2 separate regions of the Homo sapiens genome follow, and region 1 is linked to region 2. The links come from fine-mapping of genetic effects on plasma protein levels. A gene starts in region 2. The other region holds a variant in brackets. All regions are shown on one strand. Distances are between the middles of the regions.

Region 1 (2,500 bases), 63 kb after region 2:
CGACTCTTCCACCTCAACCTCCTGAGTAGCTGGGATTACAGGAGCACTCCACCACATCCGGCTAATTTTTTTTTATTTTTAGTAGAAACGGGGTTTTACCATGTTGGCCAGGCTGGGCTCGAACTCCTGACCTCAAGTGATCCACCTGCCCCAGCCTCCCAAAATGCTGGGATTACAGGTGTGAGCCACCATACCTTGCCCATACCTGAAAATATTCATACCTGTGTGCCATACTGGCAAGGCTGCCCTGGCTTCCTCAAGCTCCAGATGCCCCAGGGCTGAGGGAATCAACATCCTAGCTCACCTCTAGCCCACTTGAGGTACCCGAGGTGGGCCACAGTGCACCTGTTGAGAGGAGAAAAAAATGTCCAAATCTGACAAATCTGACCTATACATATGGGGCACATATGGGGAGTTCCTTCTCTCCTGCTGTTATTGCAGGTGCTGCCCCATGGTACAGCTGAAAACAGGCAATCCTTGGGACGCAGAGGTGCCCATGCCTGCCAGGAGCAGCCCTCTGATCCAGCAGTGTTTCCTCTGGATGTGGGGAGGGTAGGATAAGGCTCTCTCCCCGGCGTTACAGTTGGCCATAGTGGTCCCTTAGCCCGTTGGCCTGGGATCCCAGGCCACAGCTGTTTATATGCGTGGCTCTTGTGTGTGTGTGTGTGTGTGGGTGGGTGGGTGGGGGGGTGATGTATCCTAGACTTGTACAAGTACACACACATGCAGGCATACGCACAGCCATTTTCCCGAAGATAACATCCATCCTGCCGAGAGAACTGAATTGAAGAGAGCTGGGGGGCATTAGCTACCTGCTGTGCCCTGTGCTAGCTCTCTCACACAACCAGACTTCTGTGTGGTGTGCACCCTCCAAGGCCTCTTCTGTCATCTTTCTTACTCTGTCCCCTCCTTGGGTCTGTCAGAGATATTCCATAGATTTTTCAGTAAGGTAGAACCTCAGAAAAAAACTAAAAACAAACCCAAACCAAAAGGCCCTTCCTTTCCCAAAGGCTGCTTCTCAGACCACGGTATTAAAAAAAAAAAAGGCAAACCTCTCTCGCTCAGCTAGATGGCTCCTTGCACCGTTTCTCAGAACACTGTTTGTTTGCCTCACTTTTTATTGCTAAAAGAGTCCTCTCAAATGGTTCAGAACAAAGGAAGTCTGTTTTGATGTCTCTTTGCTGTAAGTAGAGGAATTTGCAGCTTGTAAATGGCTGCAGTTTTGCTAAAATAGCGACTAAAACATGCAGTTATGTCTCTCTTGGCACTCACCCACCCACCCGTCACCCACACCCACCACCCACCATAAGTTGGCTTGGGAAATGTTTGCTGAATAAAAGGACAGTCTCTGGGTGTTCCCGGGTCCCAGCCTCTGCCTGGCTGAAGTGCCTCTCCTTCCTCTCCAGGTCCATATTCAAGCCTTTCATCTTTGTTGATGACGTAAAACTTGTCCCCAAAACACAGTCTCCCTGTTTTGGGGATGACGACCCTGCCAAAAAGGAGCCTCGGTTCC[A/G]GGAGAAACCAGACCGCCGGCATGAGCTGTACAAAGCCCACGAGTGGGCACGTGCCATCATCGAAAGTGACCAGGTGAGCTTGCATGAGGGCCACAGAGGCGGAGGCGGAGGCGGGCGGGCGAGGTCAGCGAGGAAGGAGGCAGGGAAGCAGATGTCAAGCTAGACCCTACCCCCACCCATCCAGTGTGACCGGGCTTCTCCCAGAGACCAGGTTCCTGGGGCCTTTCCTAGAAGGCTGGTGTCCATTTTCCTGCCCAGGCTCTTGAAACCAAATAAGACAAAGCTTCTGCTTCTCATGTTATTTTGGAATTCAGCAGGCTGAGTATCTTACTTACATTTACTGTTTACGTAGGAATAATAGGAATATGCAGTACGTTAGGGATAACTGTTATATATTGTGTAAAATTCCTTATGTACTTTTGGGGGTAAAAAGTTGTTATTTGCTGGCAACATTTTATTAAAGATACAATCATATGTTGTTTCAAAAAAGTTCTGGAGTTGGCTGGTGGTGCTGGTTGCACAACATTGTGAATGAGCTTAATGCACTGAACTATACATTTTAAAGTTTTTAAATGGTCAATCTTATGTTATAATACATATGTTTTACCATAGTACAAACATAGTTTTAGAAAATATTCTCATATTCCTAGGGTTTTTTTTTTTTTTTTTTGTATTTTTAGTAGAGACGGGGTTTCACCCTGTTGGCCAGGCTGGTCTTGAACTCCTGAGCTCAAGCAATCCACCTGCTTCTGCCTCCCAAAGTGCTGGGATTACAAGCAGGAGCCACCGCGCCCAGACTCATATTCCTAGTTTTAAAAAAGAAGTCGTAATCCTTCAAAGTGCAGCTCTCCCCAGTCCCACACCTTTGGTTAATAAAGTGATAAGTCATCAATTCAAACAAGAAAACCACCCAAAGCACGTTCCACAGCACCCAGTGTGTCCACAGCAGCCACCCCGATGGACTTTATATAAATTCAAGCCTATAT
Region 2 (2,991 bases):
CACTTCCCTCGAGGCTGGGTGACAGAGCGAGATCCCATCTCAAAACAAACAAAAAATAAAACAGCGACTCTGAGACTTTTAAAAAAAGTTTAATATTTATTTTAAGTTCTGGGGTATATATGCAGGATGTGCAGATTTGTTATATAAGTAAACGTGTACCACGGTGGTTTGCTGCACCTATCAACCCATCACTTAGGTATTAAGCCCAGCATGCATTACCTATTTTTCCTAATGCTCTCCCTACCCACACCTCACGGACTTTCAGACTTTAACATGCAAGAGAAACAACTAAAGAGCTTGAAAAATGCGGGTTCCCTGGCTCCAGCCCCAGAGACTCTGAATTCCATAGATCTGGGCTGGAACCCAGGAATAAGCCCGCTAGAAATTTCTAATATTGATTATTTAGACTCATTGGCTACAGTTTTCTTGGCTAGACTAAAAGAACAGTAAAGTACCTTTGTGCTCCAAGAGTCTACGAACCAATGCTCTATTCTGCAGTACCTACACCAACTTCCTCAGCCCTTCCCCACTATCCGTTTACTCATGTGTCAGACTGTAAGCACAGGCTCAACATTCAAAGGGCATGGAAAAAAGTCTCCTTCTCTCCCCAGCACCCAGTCTCCCAGTTCTGCTCCCTGGTGGCATCTATTACAGGTTCTTACGTACTCTTCCAAAGATACTCTGTGCATTTACAAAAATAAGTACAGACATACATATATATTTTCTTCCCACAAATAACACACACAACGTTCTGCACCTAGCTTTTTATTTTTCTTTAGTTAGTATAGGTTGGAAATAGTTTTGTATTAGCAAATAAAGATCATTCTCCTTTTTAAAGGAAGCTGGATAGTAGAGGCAGGCGGATTGCCTAAGCTCAGGAGTTTGAGACCGGCCTGGGCAACATGGTGAAACCCCATCTCTACTAAAAATCAAAAAAAATTAGCGAGGCTGGTGGCGTGGGTCTGTAGTCTCAGCCACTTGGGAGGCTGAGGCACGAGAATCGCTTGAACCCGGGAGGCGGGAGGCGGGAGGCGGGAGGCAGGAGGCGGAGTTTGCAGTGAGCCGAGATCCTGCCACTGCATTCCAGACTGGGCGACAAAGCAAGACTCAAAATGTTTTGATTTTTGTTAATCTGGCTGGTGGAAGATGCTACCCCACATATTTGATTTGCAGTTAAGTGAGCCTGAATATCTTTTCGTGTGCCAGGATAGAATTGCATTTATTTTCCTCTGAATTACGTCTTCATATCTTTTGAGATAGTCTTTTCTTATTTACTTATAAAAGATGGAGTTGACGCTGGCATCAACACACACACACACACACACACACAGACACACAACACACAAGTCCCTGTACATAACTTTATTAACCCAGATATGGAATCTTGGCTTAGTTACGTGCTGTGTGACCTTGGGCAAGTTACTTAACCTCTCTAGGCCACAATGTCCAAGTACCTGGGACAGGGTCTGGCTTACCAACATGGTACAGGACGGCACTTTTAAAACCAGGGACTCGACTTGGACGTGCGAGTCAACAAGGTACAGGACACATTTCTCTCCGGGGAAATCTTGTGTGGGCGCCGAGGCCCGGACGTAGCAACCAAACGTCGGGAAGAGGCGCCAAAAGGATGCTGGGCCTGGCTCCTTGAAGCCCGGGTTTTCCCTTTTGAGAGCCACAACCAAGAAATAAAAATCTAGCAAAGAGGGGGCCACTTTCTGCGGCGAGATACGCCCTCTCGGCCGCTCCTCCAGCTCCCAGGCCCCCTCCCTACTCGACGGTGAGCAGCGCCGCGGCCCGTGCAGCCAGACGCGCGGGGTGCGGCGGGGCCCCGGGGGCCGGGGTGGGGGAGGCGGAGGGTGGGCCCGCGGTCACGTGAGTCGGGCCAGCTGCTGCGGGGGGCGGCGGGCCCCAGCGCCGGGAGTCTGGGTAGGGGGAAGCGCCCGGCGGCCGCCTCCGCCACTGCAGCTGCAGCCCCCGAGGTCGCCGCAGTAATCCGGACCCGGCAGCACCCGCACCCTCGGCGGCCGCAGCCTCAGCACCGCAGAGCGGAGAGCGGAGCCCGGAGCCCGCCGCCCCAGGTGAGCCGCGTCTGGGAGCGCAGGGCGTTTGCAGCGCTGCTTTCCCGGCGGTTTCACCCCACCCGCCATCGCCACCTCCTGCGTTTCATCTCCTCCCGCTGTCCCTCCGAACCCGCGGGTAGCGTTACCCCAGGCCGATTCCCGGTGCTGGCCCGGGCGGGCTGGGAGCCTGGGGGCGGTCAGAGGAGAGGTGGCCTCGGCCTGAAGCCGGGGTGACTCGGCTCGGGGACTGCGGGGGTGCAGTGGAGGGATGCCGGCCCCGGGCTCCCGCACCGCAGCCGGGTTCCCCGCGCTGCTCTTCCTGGGTTTCCTTTTCCTGGCAGCCAACCTGCTGCCCACTGGGATGTGCCTGTGGGCCCCTGGCCTCGCCACCCTGGGGTCTGGGGCGAGCCGGGCACCTTCCCCGAGGTGCCGTACCTGCTGCGCGGGCGGGCGCCGCGAACATGGCTGCCCGGAGACGCCCGCCGCCTTCGGCCCGGCTCTGCCAGCGCGTCCAACTCGCCCGCGGCCGCCGCACCGTGTCCCGGAGCAGCCCTCCCCGCTAGGCCGACGCGCGCGGGCCGCCCCTGGGTTCTCCGCGGGCCGCGCGTGGGACTTGACACAACTTCCCTCGAGCCGCACCCGGGCGTTCTCCGCGGGGCGCCGGGCGGGGCTGCCGAGAGGCCGGCTTGGTCGGCCTCTGCCTCCTCGGCTCGCTCTTGAGGCGTCGAGTATTTGGCGACCTCACTCGCGAGGGCCGAGAGAAATGTGGTCTGCAAAGCAGGAGGGGCGCTTGAACTTTAGAGAATTGGCGAGAACTCGGATTTGGGAATAAAAATGTCCATGAAAACATCGAAGGAAACTGTTACCTGCTTTGACTCAAAGCTGACCTTGTAGGGTTCTGTTAAATAACGTGGCTTTTCTGGATTTTCTG

Alleles and levels. Alleles are on the strand shown, and positions count from the first base shown. The strength of an association depends on the size of the effect and on how common the allele is.
For the plasma level of the protein whose gene starts at base 1,919 in region 2, G is the high allele of the variant in region 1 and A is the other (moderate association).

Evidence for each region. A credible set is the group of variants that fine-mapping cannot tell apart. PIP is the chance, under the fine-mapping model, that this variant and not a neighbour inherited with it causes the effect. Protein levels are from antibody-based Olink assays in UK Biobank. Linkage for the fine-mapping came from a reference panel and not from the study's own genotypes, which makes the PIPs less certain.
Region 1: its variant is the best candidate, but not a certain one, in a credible set for the plasma level of the SCRN1 protein (UK Biobank, PIP 0.85). The variant lies in the coding sequence of SCRN1. If it changes the protein, the assay may bind it differently, which can mimic a change of level.

What each region holds. Positions count from the first base shown.
Region 1 is chr7:29,925,539-29,928,038 of GRCh38, reverse strand. SCRN1 (secernin 1) reads left to right here. Exons shown (of 8, transcript NM_014766.5): 7 at 1,407-1,587. Among named protein-coding and RNA genes, the nearest start is that of FKBP14-AS1, 62 kb to the left of the region's middle. The variant A/G (reference allele first, on the strand shown) is at 1,514.
Region 2 is chr7:29,988,729-29,991,719 of GRCh38, reverse strand. SCRN1 (secernin 1) reads left to right here and starts at 1,919. Exons shown (of 8, transcript NM_014766.5): 1 at 1,919-2,078. It overlaps FKBP14-AS1 (FKBP14 antisense RNA 1), which reads right to left. Exons shown (of 3, transcript NR_187577.1): 1 at 2,927-2,991. RefSeq lists silencers at 1,793-2,132, 2,153-2,202, 2,213-2,482, 2,573-2,692.